Homo sapiens: one gene and its partners. The protein of the gene in region 2 interacts with the protein of the main gene of each other region in a pairwise test. Each region holds a gene or a part of one and is shown on either strand. Other genes may lie near its edges.

Region 1 (3,060 bases), on a different chromosome or scaffold from region 2:
CTAACCATCAAACCCTGTGTAGGGCTAGATATCTCAATGTAGTCCCTGTACTTAGTCCCAAAGGCTAGTTGGGCTAGAGGGAAACAAATTCTTCTGGACCACGGTTCACAATGAAGAACTGGAAAAAGACAGACAGGCTCAAACCATAGGGCCAAGAATCCTTGTCTCAGGCCTTTGGGTGAAGGTAGGGGTAGGGGGTGCAGGCTGGATCCTCATGTAAGGTATAAAGAAGTCAGTTGGTCCAGAGCCCGGGCCTCAGGTCTCCAGTTTGAAGCCTTTCATGTCTCTCTCCTTCCTCACAGGTGCCCTTTGGGGAAGTAAGCATGGTCCGGGACTGGTTGGGCATTGTGGGGCCTGTGCTGACCCCTCCCCAAGAGCATCCTAAACGACCAGTGCTGGGACTGGAGTGCCCACAGTCAGAAGTGAGTGGTGCCCGATTCTGGGGCTTTTTCCGGAACCTCTGTGGACAGCCTGAGGTCTTCTTCCATCACTGTTTTGTCCACAATCTATGCCCTCTGCTTTTCCTGGCTCCCAGCGGGCGCAACCTTACTCCTGCTGAGCTGCCTGCCAAGCAGCGAGAACAGCTTCTTGGGATCTGTGATGCAGCCCTCTGCCGGCAGGTGCAGCTGCTGGGGGTGCGGCTGGTGGTGGGAGTTGGGCGACTGGCAGAGCAGCGGGCACGACGGGCTCTGGCAGGCCTGATGCCAGAGGTCCAGGTGGAAGGGCTCCTGCATCCCTCTCCCCGTAACCCACAGGCCAACAAGGGCTGGGAGGCAGTGGCCAAGGAAAGATTGAATGAGCTGGGGCTGCTGCCACTGCTGTTGAAATGAGTGCCCTTGGGGCCTTGCATGGGACACATTCAAGACCTCGAAGTCATTCTTGGCCAAGCAGATGACAACACATCTCCTGGACTGGAGCAAAAGGTCCTTCTGTGCACCCTGGTCGCTGGGAAACGTATTCTTTGATCTGTTGAACTGTCTTCCAACCTGCCATGGCAGTTTTGACACTACTCCTGTTTGCCCTCCTGATTCCTGCTTTCTTTACCTTTTAACATTGCCCCTTTCAGGGGACCCCACTTTGTAGGGAATCTGCAGAAGGTGTGCTTTTGCACTTGCAGACTGCTCTACCTCAGTGTTTCCTTGGGAGACTTTATTCAGCTGAGAGTGCCCTAGACAGTAACTTCTAAGGTCACGTTTACTATTTCAGAGGAAATATCTTGCCAGGATACCTACCCATCCTTATAGAACAGTTACCTTTAGCTGACCCCTTTCCTCACAGGGACCAAGACAAAGCATGGGACATGAAATTAAGAGTGAACTTCTTATGGGAGGCTGCAGCTGGATCAGAGGAAAAATCCAGTGTGACAGAGTGCAAGTCAGAAGACCTGGCTTTTCATCCCAGCTTTGAAACTTGGAACTTTTTGATTGACAAATTAATAAACCTCTCTATGCCTCAGGCTCCTCATCTGTAAAACAGGGATGCCTACCTTATGGGGTTGGTGTGAGGATTAACTGAGATCACACTTGAAAGTGCCTTGCATGGGCTTGGCATGTGGGTGCTCATTACATAGTCTTCTTGTTTTCTTGCCTCTGGGTTGAGGATTCACAGCACTGCACTACAAGGGTAGCCCCTCTCCATTCTGGATACCTTGCTAGGAGAGAGTCTGGGCTTCCACCTGCGGCCAGGGTGAAGGGAAAATTCTTGCCATGTCAGAGATGGATCAATGACTATGAAAAAACTAGCCTGTGATTTTTTTTCACTCTAAGCATTAAGAGCTCCTAAAGCCTTTTGTCTTGTTACTTTTTTCCCCCTCTTGCATGCTAGAGGTGGAAGGTAGTCATTTAGATTTCCCCCCTCTTCCCTCTTCATTGTTGGCCAGGGGTTCTCTTGGGCAGCTGGGGGAAGGATGTAGTAGATCTCTCTTTTTTTTTTTTTTTTGAGATGGAGTCTCATGCTGTTGCCCAGGCTGGAGTGCAGTGGCATGGTCTCAGTTCACTGCAACATCTGCTTTCCCGGTTCAAGTGATTCTCCTGCCTCAGCCTCCTGTATAGCTGGAATTACAGGCATGTGCCACCACGCCTGGCTAATTTTTGTATTTTTATTAAAGACAGTGTTTCACCATGTTGGCCAGGCTGGTCTCAAACTCCTGACTTCAAGTAATCCACCTGTCTTGGCCTCCCAAAGTGCTGCTGCCTGGCTGGATGTAGCAGATCTCCAATTGCCTTACCAAACCTGCAGGGTCTCTGTTAAGTGTCTGTTAGGGGTCTTATATGATACTCTGGACACCGTGAGAAACAGGTGATGGGGCAGATGGGAACCTGGTATCCAACTCATTTTTTATGTCTGCTGAATGGTTGACTGGGTGCCCCTTTGGTAAGGGCTGGGAAAGTGAACCAAGTTGGGAGCAGAGCAGGTCTTGAGACCACCTTAATGAGGAACACATGGTCTACTTCCTATCTCCTGGGACACAGGTCATTTCCAGCTTCCAGAATTAGTAAGATTTTTCATATAAATCCTCCCCTACTTCATTGTATAATAAAGAATTTGGCCTTTGTCTTCAGTTCCTGAGAAGGAGACTCTAAATCCTTGGAATTTCCCAAGTAATAGGAGTATCTTTGTTTTTCGTGGCAGGTCCCTGAAACTACACCTGAATTTATGTTGAGATTTGACCTTAGGCTGCACCTAATTTTATATTGAATTTGATCTCAGACCACACCTGAGTTTGCTGTAAGATTTGACTGAGGATGGAGGCTGACCATGCCAGAATGACCAACCATATAGTTACAGGGCTGGGACTTTGAGCTGGATGATACCAGCTTGATCCCCAGGGAGGGGAGAGGGGCTAGAGATTGAGTTCAGCCACATGCCGATGATTTTAACCAATTATATCTATGGTAAAACTCTAGATATAAAAACTTCTGACACAGGTTTTGGTCAGCTTCCTGGCTGGTGAACACATGGATGTGCTGAGGGATGTGCATTGGTATCCTGTTTCTATGAGCAGAGGGCACACATCTGTGCCTGGGACACTCCTGGACCCTACCATATATTTGTCTTCAT
Region 2 (3,500 bases):
AGGGGGACCTGTCTGTGCCCCAGCAGCCCCCAGCGGTCCTGGTGACCATGCAGGGAGACGCAAACATTCTCCCCACGTGTGTTTGGTCAGTTAGTGCAGGAAGATGCCTTTTTTAAGCCCCAGGGTTTTCTCATCTGTTCAGAATAGTGACCCAGAAGGGAATCAGCTGTGGCCAGAGGAGCCCAGCTGGGGCTTCCCACACCCCCTGATCACCTCCCAGCCCTTGCGGGAGAAGCTGACTGAGCCGGTTGCTTGGAGCAGGGGGCGTGTCTGTGGCACAGGGCGGTCATCTTCCCACTGCTGTGAGTGTCCCGTTCACGGGCAGCACCCTTGGTCCATCCCTCCTAGGGGGTGGACATTTGCACTGTTCCTAGTTTCTGGCTTTTAAACTGGCGGTTTTGAGGCTGTGGGGACCAGGTGCCTGCCAGGGAGGAGGTGACATTGTAGCTGGACCATAAAGGGAGACCAGATGCTGTTGGGACAGGGAAGGGGAGGGAGCAGCGTTCCAGGAAACAGTGGGTGAGCCTCGGTGTGCGGCTGAGCTTGGCTTTGCCACAGACCAGGGTCCTTGCAGGAGTGGCATGAAAAGCGGGCAGGGCCTTGAACTCTGAGCTCAGTGGGCTGGACACCACCCTATGGGTCGGGGGGTGCTGAAGGGCTGGACTCCGGAAGAGACTTGGTCAGATGTGTTTTGGGGACAGGTGAAGCAATGGCAAGCTTCAGTATCCACACACTGGGTATGTAACCAAATGTGAAACTTGGAATGCTGTACGATGGGGGATTTTTCATTTAGTGAGAACAAAGGAACCAAGAAAGCCCCCGCTTCCCCACCAGTGGAACACAGGAGCAGGGTCTCCTGTGCGTTACTACAAGGCTGTCTGGGTTTCACCACGCCCATCTGTGGGAACATTTCCCAGAGGCCCATGGAGTGGGCGAGGGCCCCTGCTTTCTCAGGGCTATTTCCTGGCTCTTTGAGGTGTGTTTGCAGTGGAAGGTGCCCCCAGGCCCACCCCCTGTGTGCTGTGCCCACCAGCATCCGCTTCCCCAGGAGGGGGCTGGGCCCCAGGAGCTGCCCGCCGCCTCCTTGAACACCGCCCCATTCCAGCTCATTTCCACCCCACTCCATGGCTCAAGCCAGGACGTCTCCTATCCCCAGACCCCCGAGTGCCTGCGGCAAGCGGGGTGTGAGAGACAGCAGCATTGTCTGGGCGGAGGCACTTTCTGGAAGTCACAGTGTCTTGTGGAAAGTGTCACTGTTCATACAGGTTCCAGAGAGACTCTCAGCGCGTCACACACACTTAGGAGAAATGTACGAGCCTAGAGACCAGCGACTCCCAGCAGCTGATGGAGCCAGCGGGGCTGGCGGGGAGGGGGTTGTTTTGAAACTCTTGTCCCCACCTGGCCAGGCCTCAGGAGCTCTTCCTTTAGCTCCAAAGGGAAGATGTGTAGGGACCCACCCCCCAGGGAGTATGGGACGTTCCACTCATGCCCTTGACAGCCCCAAGCATCCAGCCATCCTTCCCTTTAGCAGAGGAAGAATCAGAAATCCAGGCGCTCGAGAGATTTTTCCGAGGTCACATGGCAGCAGGCCTCTCCTTCAGAACCCACGCTGCTTCCAGGAAACGAGGGCCGGGGGCCTCGGCAGATACCGTTGGAGTCCCCCTTTGGGGACCCGGGCCACTGACTCTCCGTTGCTGGAAGGAAGCCTCGTCTTTCCTTGTCCCCTCAAACATTTACTTCCCTTGTGAAAAACCAAGTGTTTCGGTCAGTTTGGGACTGTTTACCTGTGTGGTTGAAGGGCTTCGAAAAGACCAGGAAATTCAAGGGAAGCTGTCAAAGAGAAGAGTTAGAACCGCTGCGTCCTGTCCCCCGTCAGTCAGCACCGAGCCTTTCTCTGTCCCACTGCAGAAAAAAGACTGTGGCGCTCCGTCAGAGAGGGTTAGGATCGCATCATTAGGAATGGGCAGAGATGCGTCTCATCCGACAGTATGATTTTATTGACTTGGACTGGTGCACTTATTATATTAATGAGAAGGAATTGGAACTTGGGAGAAGGCCGCCCTCATAAGCCGGGCTCTTCCCAAGCCCTCCGAGCGCCGACCAGGCCACATGATGGGTGGAAGGAGCCCTCCTGGGGCCTGTCCCCACTCCGGGCTCTGTGCCCGGCATCCAGGAGAGATGCCCAATGAGCTGAGGCCTGCACGGAGCTGAGCAAGTCCCTGCCAGCAGGACAAGCTCCCAGAACCAAGGGCCTGCACCCACCAGGTTCTAGAATGGTGACAGTGCCAAGCTAAAGCCCAGGACCTGTATCTCCAAGACCCAGGGGAAAGACCCCTTCCACCAAGAGGTTCTGCAAACAGCTAAGTCTTGCACACACGTTTGGTTGGGCAAGAGATTGAACTAATTACCATTGCATCGTGACTCAGGAGGGGCACAGGGGCCAGGGACACTTCACGCCCTGTGCGTGGGGATGAATTATGCATCTGCCGCATCTCATGTGCACCTACTATGTGGGGATGCTGTGGTGGCAGCCACGTTGCCCCAGCAACCACCTCATCTCCTAAGGCTGCTGACCCAAGAGCTGGGCTTATGCAAATCTGGTCTCCTCCCACTTCCCCCCTCCCTGGGCCCCCTCCCCGCCTCTGTATTTGCTAACACGAGGCTGGCATGAAAGGGCATTAGTCAGTGCCATGGTCGGGCTGACAGGTGCGGTACCCAGCGGTGGCAGAGTGGCTGCCTCGGTGTCAGAAATAGGAGCCGTAATTAGAGCGCGGAACAGAATGAGCGTCAGACGAATTACCAGGCAGCAGATCATATTTGTCAGGAAGGATTGCATACATAAAAATTAAGTGACAGTACACGCCGGCGTAATGCAGGAAAAATGAAAGATTTGCCTATACACAGCTCACAAGCTACAAGCAAGTGTCTCGCTCCGAGCAACGGCAGCAGCTGCAAGACAAATCACGGGGCTGGGAGAGCGGGCGGGCAGGCCTGGCTCCTCGGCTGTAGTGACAGGACAGTCTCGGTGACAGGCAGCCACGGGTGACAGGGCAGGAAGGGCGGCTGGTCACACCCAGGCCCATGCAGGGCCCGTGCTGCCTCTTGGGGGCTGGGAGAGCAAGTCTAGTTGGGGGTGACCCCATCAGGTACTCGAGGTCACGGCCCTGCTGGGTCTCCCAGGGCTTAGCCTGGCGCTGAGGCGCAAACCCCTTCCTTCTTCTTCCTTGAGCAAACTGCCTGGCCCTGGGCTGTGTGCTGGGGATATGCGATTATGCAGCTTTCGAGGGGACAGACACAGTCCATGCCAGGTGGCATGGTGAGGGGACAGGTGGGACTGCCTCTTGGGGCCCACTGTGGGCAGGCAGGGCAGGCGTGGGGCTCTGTGATTCTATACAGAGCCCCAGGGAGCCCAGGGTGGCTCCACCCCTCCCAGAGCCGCCCTCACTTCGTTACTCTGTAGCCACTGAACTCACTGAAAAGATGAGTTAAAGACGGAGAAA
Region 3 (3,500 bases), on a different chromosome or scaffold from region 2:
AATTTCATTAAGGCATTGTTTACTCCTAGATCATTAATGAAAGAGCTACACCAGGTCAGACTGAGCTCCAATAGCACCCTCCGGTGCCTCCTTCATCCTTCCCAGTTGCCTTTTCTCCTTCCCCTTTGTTTGTGCTTGTTACTCAGAAGCAGTGAATTCCTGCTGACAGCACCCGCCAATTTGAATTCCCAGGAAGATTTCAGGAGAGTCTCTGTTAAACAGTATGCAAACATACTACATATGACATCTTCTTTATCCTCTTTGCTGTTAACGTTGTAATTCTGTCAACATCAATCACATTTACCTTGTGAATTATCCTTTTACCTGTTAGTATTTATTAAAACCACCATTGACTTTGCCATGGTACCAGGGAGCTGAATTAATTTAAAATAATGATAATGAGACTCAGCCTTGTCATCTCATATGAAAATCAGTATCATATTTGGCTTTTCCTTCCAGAATCCTGGGTCCTCTCAACTTCACATGCTTTAATAGTACCTCAGATGGCTGAATGTTCTCTGATAGTAACCCTCAGTAATGTTGGCAAAGTTGGTGTTTAAGAAACTTGGTCAGCAGGCTTGGACTCTATCAGCAGTGTTTGGACATCTCTTCTGGGCTGTGGTAGCCACATTTTTCCAGGGGTGGAGAGACATCAGTGTGTGTCAGCTAAGCCTGGCTAGTTGCTGTTCAATCCCATCCCCAAACTCTTTGGATGGGAAACCACACCCCCAGTAATTCTATCCCAGAAGGTCCCACCCAGAGAGACCTGTTGCTACAAGTCCTGTAGCACTAGTAAGAGATTTTGGTCCTTTCACTTCCCCTTTTCCTTTTGCCCTTTGGCCTTTGCATTTTGCCTCCCTTCTTTCAATTGTCCCCTTCCCCCATGTTCTTCACTTGCCACCAGGTTGGTGATCTGACAAAGACACAGTTGTTGGCAGATTTCAGGCATTTTCCTTCCAGGACCACTTATATTTACCAAGGAGGGCACCAGACCTAATGCTAAGGAAGAATTCCAATCCACAGATGGGACTTCAGGCTTCTGTGAGGGCGATGTTCGTGCCCATGGCCCTTCCTGGATCCCTGTCACTAATGCATCATTGGGTTACAGCTATGAGCACATTTCCCCTGAGGACAGAGTCTCTTGGCACCTTTCTAGCACCCGACAGGAAGGCATGATGAGCCCATGACCAACTTATTCCCCTTCTGCATCAGCTTCATATCTCATTCCTCCATGAAGAAGCCAACCTTTTTCTTTCCTACCTACTGGATCTCTATGTGAGGGCATTTCCTAGAGACCAGAAAAGAGACAATCTTTTATTTTCATGGTCAGTTGCACCATGCTACACAGGCTGTACCTCCCAGGCTTAGGAGAACATTACTGGGGTGTTCTTGGGGCTTTGTATTGGCATAGACCTCTTGTCAAGGGCTAAAGGATATCAGGGCAGGTTAGCTTGGCCCATGAAACCAATCCAGTGATACCACTGGTCGAGGAGTCCTACTGAGAAGGAACTGGCTTCTAACATAGGCCAAGGAGGTCTGGAATCCTGGAACTGCATATGTTCGCTGAGCTCAGATGCTTAGTTTTTGGGTAGCCCTTTTGTAAAGAAATATACTCCACGTTGCATAGCGCTTTAGGCTGGGTATGTTTAAACCTTACCAGTAGAACTGACCATCTGTTTAGTCTTTATGACAGCTTGGCTACCACTTTCTTGTCCTCTGGCAACCCCAGGAAGTAGGCAGAGCAGCCATGTTTAGGCTTATTTTAGAGGTGACATTCTGAGAGGCAAAATGACTTTCTCAAGAGCAGTCAAAGGAAGGACTTTTGAGCCCAAAGTTACTGGAAATTTAGGGCGTTTACCCTCGTTGGATTATATATTCAAGATGATGAAAGGGACCACTAGCGTGCTTGTGTGCAGGGGGTGGTGGGAGCTTCCTCTAAGGGAGTACATGGATGAACCTAGGGGTTTGTGGAATTCACGTGAGGAAAACTCCATGCTTATAGATTTTACATCATACCATAACAGCTTTGCCCTGGGACTATTTTAAAGTCTTAAAATATGAATGGAAATGAGGATATAGCTTATCAAATACACTAACTATATTAAGGCAAAAGAAATGGCCATTTTTGTAGGCCAAAAATGGTAAAATGTTAACAGTTTCTTATGGTTCAACCTAGTATTTCCTCCCAATCTTTCAGTGTATTTTGGTTGATTCAGTTATTGCCAAGGACTCATTAAGCCTCCACCACATGTGAAATTTGCTTTCTAATTCCCAAGACTTGGGATGTCACAAAAACAAGGGATAGGTCACTGTGCTTAGATAATTGCAACTTACTCATATGGGGAGAGGACAGGCCTGGTTGTAAGAGAACCATTGCAAAGTAATGATATTAGCACATGCAAAATAAAATGTCTGAGCATTGTGAAGTGCTAGAATAAACATGGAGTTTGGAGTCAAATATCCTCATTTTAAACCCTGGTTCCACTCCTTTATCAGCTATGTAATCTTATGCAGAATCATGCCAGTTCTTTGGGTAAGATATTACATATGAATACAGAAATCAATTAGCATATAACCTGACACATTATAGTCACTCAGTGTTATTTTTTTTCTTGTTCTATATAATCTTTCTCTAAAGAAATGCTAAGCAATGTCTCTTCTAAAAGCCCTTCTTGTATGTCTGCAGCTCTTTATAAACAAAGAAAATGTTCCGAGTCTCCTTTTATTTCTGAACAACAAACCCTCTGAGAGAAGTAGGGCAGATGTTGGTGAGGTCGTTATAGAGGGTTGTACAGGTTGTGCCCTGCAGTAACAGTGAATAGCGCCTTTTAGAGTTGGGCATTTCAAAAATATATGGGTTGGCCCTGATTCATTCATGTCAACATCCACATTTTCTAGGAACTAAGGCACAGAAATGAAGTGACTTTGTAAAGGTCATGCACTCATATAGTGCAGAGCCAGAATTCTCTGGAGATGTTATCATTTCTAGTCCCCTATTCCCCACACCTTGCTGCCTGCGTTAATGCTTCCTGCATTTTGACTTCTCTCATTTGCATCAAGAAGTAATTGGTGCTATTCACTGATTCTTCAAATCAACTGGAAATTCCCTGAGGGCAGGGTCTGTGAGCTTGGAACACAGTACGTGCCAAATTAATGTTAGTTGATTCACTGACACTAATGTAGGGGAAAAATTGGTGCAATAACATCCTGAGTGGGTACATGACTAGGGTGAAGAATTTTCACAAGGCCAAGAGCTTTCCTTTAAGGATTAAATCCAGCTAGCTCTGATCAGAATCAGAGAAATGCTACAGGAAAAAACAAGTTTGTTCTGGATCAATGTTTTCCTGAAGTTCAATCATGATCCTTGTCATGTCTAAAAATGCCTGTATATTTAATATAGGTATGTTTTCCCATTACTCATTAAAATAAGTATATGACTACTGAAAAATTTTTAAATGTTCTAAGAAATTAAGCCATGAGGAAACACTGCACTTGACCAC
Region 4 (2,694 bases), on a different chromosome or scaffold from region 2:
CAATTTTGAAAGACATCTCTTTGAAAACTCCATCTTAGGAGATGTGATTAATAGAGGTGCCAGGTGACATAGAGCGCTGCTACATTTCTGGCCATAGAAAAGAGCCCACAGGGTGAGGCTGCTCAGGTCTGTGTGTGCTCATTCACGTCTTGAGTCCACAGGCCTGAGAATGAAACAAAGAGCCAGAGAACCATGGAGTTGGGATGGAGGTCATTGGAAGGGCTCCAAGGGTTGTATACAGGGAATGCTTGAGGGGAATCCCCCAAGAACAATGGTAGGAGATGGGTACAGCTCTCAGCAGTGTAACCCTTAAAGTCCCAGGTTAATGAGTCTAGAGGAAGAATAAGAAGAGAACTGCCAAAGAGGCAATTGTGTAAAAAGCTGTTCATCCACATTCCCAACATCAATGTTGTTACTATTGGAATGTAAAGTGTATGTGTGTGGGGTGTGTGTTATAGGGAGAATGGAGTAACAAATGGCAAAAGTTGACACAGGCCAAATCATGGAAGGCCATGCTAATTTTATTAACTTATATAGTGCATAAAGTCTAGAATTTAAAATTACAAAGGTTTTCTACAAATCAATAAGAAAATACAAATAACCTATATTAATCAGAACAGAAACTCAATTCAATTATCTTAAACAAGAAAGGGACTTTATTGGCTCACAAAACTTTAAAGTCCGGAGGTAGGGCAGGCTTTAGGCACAGCTGGATCTAGGGCCTCCAGAAAAATGACATCAGAACTTAGTTCTCTTTCCATTTCTGCTAGCATCCGAGTTTCTCCTCAGACAGACTCTCTCCACATGGCACAAATTCAGGCTTACATGGTCCTTGGTTCCTGGGATCTCCATAAAGCCTTCTTTCCAGTAGTTCCAGCAGAAGTTCTGTTAAGGGCTTTCCTTAGCCTGGCTTAAGTTATATACCCATTCTTTTATCACTGTGGCTAGGAAGCTGTGGGACTCAGGAGGCCAGGCCTGGTCACATGCTCACCTAAGCCACAGGGAATAGGTTCCCCACAAATAAATAAAGGTTGTGTTACCAGAAGATGGGGAAGGAGATGCTGAACAAATAAAAACAATATATCCACACATAACCCAATAGAAAGCAGGTAAGGGATACAAACAATCCACAGTAAACTATAAATGGCCAATAAACATGAAAATAACCCCAATCTCACCATTTTTTTTTATAATCAGGGAAATGCAAAATAAGAAAAGGTTCTTTTTCGCCCAACAGATAAAAACTATCAAGTGTAGGTATGGTTATATGGGGAAATGAACATTCTCCATACACTTGGTGAAAATACAGTTATGAAGGCCTTTGGGAAGACTGAAGGTGGACAGAGAACAAACCCTTTGATCCAAAAATCCACCTTACTGGACTCCAGACTAAAGAAATATTCACACACATGCACAAAGACATCTGAATAGGATGTTTACTTTGGCAATGTAATAGCGAGAGGAAAAAAATTAAGGGAATAAATAATGGCATTTTCATAGTATTTAATCATATTCAACCATTAAAGAAATTTAAAGACCTGTTATCTTTTTTTGAGACCAAAATTTTAAAAAGCTACAGAATATGAGATCCTATTTATGTAAAAAGTGTTTTTATGTGTATGTATATTCGTACGGAAAGGTGACTAGAGGATGTATGTTAAACTGTGGTAAGTGGAATGTGATTGGTAGCATTGGAGAAAAGGGTCTCTCTATTCAAAGAACTGTGTTTTTTATACAATGAGAAGGTAGTCATTAGACTTTCATAATTAAAAAAAGGAAAATGGGCAAAAGCAATTCATAATAGGAAATGCAAATGGCCAAGAAACATGAAAAGATGTTCCTCCTCATTAATATTCAAAGAAAAGAAAGAAATTTTGCCTACCAGATTGGCAAAAATTTTTAAGGATTCAGGGTTGGCAGACTATAGGCAAACAGGCATTCTTACTAATGATGGAGTTGTAAATTGGTGAAATCTTTTTGGTAGTAGTTTTCAAAACTGCAAATGTGAAACCTGATCCAATAAATTTCTAGTTATTCATCCTACAGAAATACCCACACAAGTAGCAAAATACATGTACAGGAATGTTAATTACACTTCTATCTATAATGAACCTAATTATCAATCCATAGGGGATTAAATAAATTACAGAATATTCATGCAATGGAATAGTATATAGTTATGAAAAAAGAACATCTTCAATGTGGGGGGAGAGGAGGCAAGTCTCAGTGTAGTGCATGTGAAATGGGGTTATGTCCTACTTTATACGGTAGCTGAGGATTAAGAGTTAATCCATGATAAAGCACTTCAAATAGTGCCTGTCACAGCAACCACAGGTGTCAGCTGTTAACACATTATTGATTAAATAAGTATATGCCTAAATCTGGAAGAACAAACGAAATTATCATGACTTCTCGGTAACACTGTGAAAGGAAATATCCTTTTTCATTTTACATTTCTGCACTGTAAAAAATTCAAACCAGCAATGTTTAATAGCTTTCACATTTGTTAACCATAAACACAAATTTATCAAGGTTTAATAGCCACCACCCATGGCATGGTGAATATGTCCCTGGAGTCTACAGAACCAGATTTGAATTTTATCTCTAGGCCACATGCAAGTCACATGATCTCTGAATCTTGCTTTCCTAGTCCACAAATCTAAGTGAGATAGGTACGGTGTCTAAGCCAATGCC

What was found. The genes of interacting proteins can lie anywhere in the genome.
Region 1: the proteins of NEK6 (region 2) and SMUG1 interact in binary tests that used the Homo sapiens proteins (3 or more experiments, as listed by UniProt).
Region 3: the proteins of NEK6 (region 2) and CBY2 interact in binary tests that used the Homo sapiens proteins (3 or more experiments, as listed by UniProt).
Region 4: the proteins of NEK6 (region 2) and ZNF24 interact in binary tests that used the Homo sapiens proteins (3 or more experiments, as listed by UniProt).

The regions. Positions count from the first base shown.
Region 1 is NC_000012.12:54,179,866-54,182,925, reverse strand, and holds the end of SMUG1 (single-strand selective monofunctional uracil DNA glycosylase), read left to right. Parts: intron 1-302; coding exon 303-830; 3' UTR 831-1,278; coding exon of another isoform or gene 1,279-1,407; 3' UTR 1,408-2,560; downstream 2,561-3,060.
Region 2 is NC_000009.12:124,327,449-124,330,948, forward strand, and holds part of NEK6 (serine/threonine-protein kinase Nek6), read left to right. Parts: intron 1-3,500. UniProt on the Homo sapiens protein: Protein kinase which plays an important role in mitotic cell cycle progression. Required for chromosome segregation at metaphase-anaphase transition, robust mitotic spindle formation and cytokinesis.
Region 3 is NC_000013.11:45,705,320-45,708,819, forward strand, and holds part of CBY2 (protein chibby homolog 2), read left to right. Parts: intron 1-3,500.
Region 4 is NC_000018.10:35,331,727-35,334,420, forward strand, and holds the end of ZNF24 (zinc finger protein 24), read right to left. Parts: 3' UTR 501-2,694; downstream 1-500. UniProt on the Homo sapiens protein: Transcription factor required for myelination of differentiated oligodendrocytes. Required for the conversion of oligodendrocytes from the premyelinating to the myelinating state.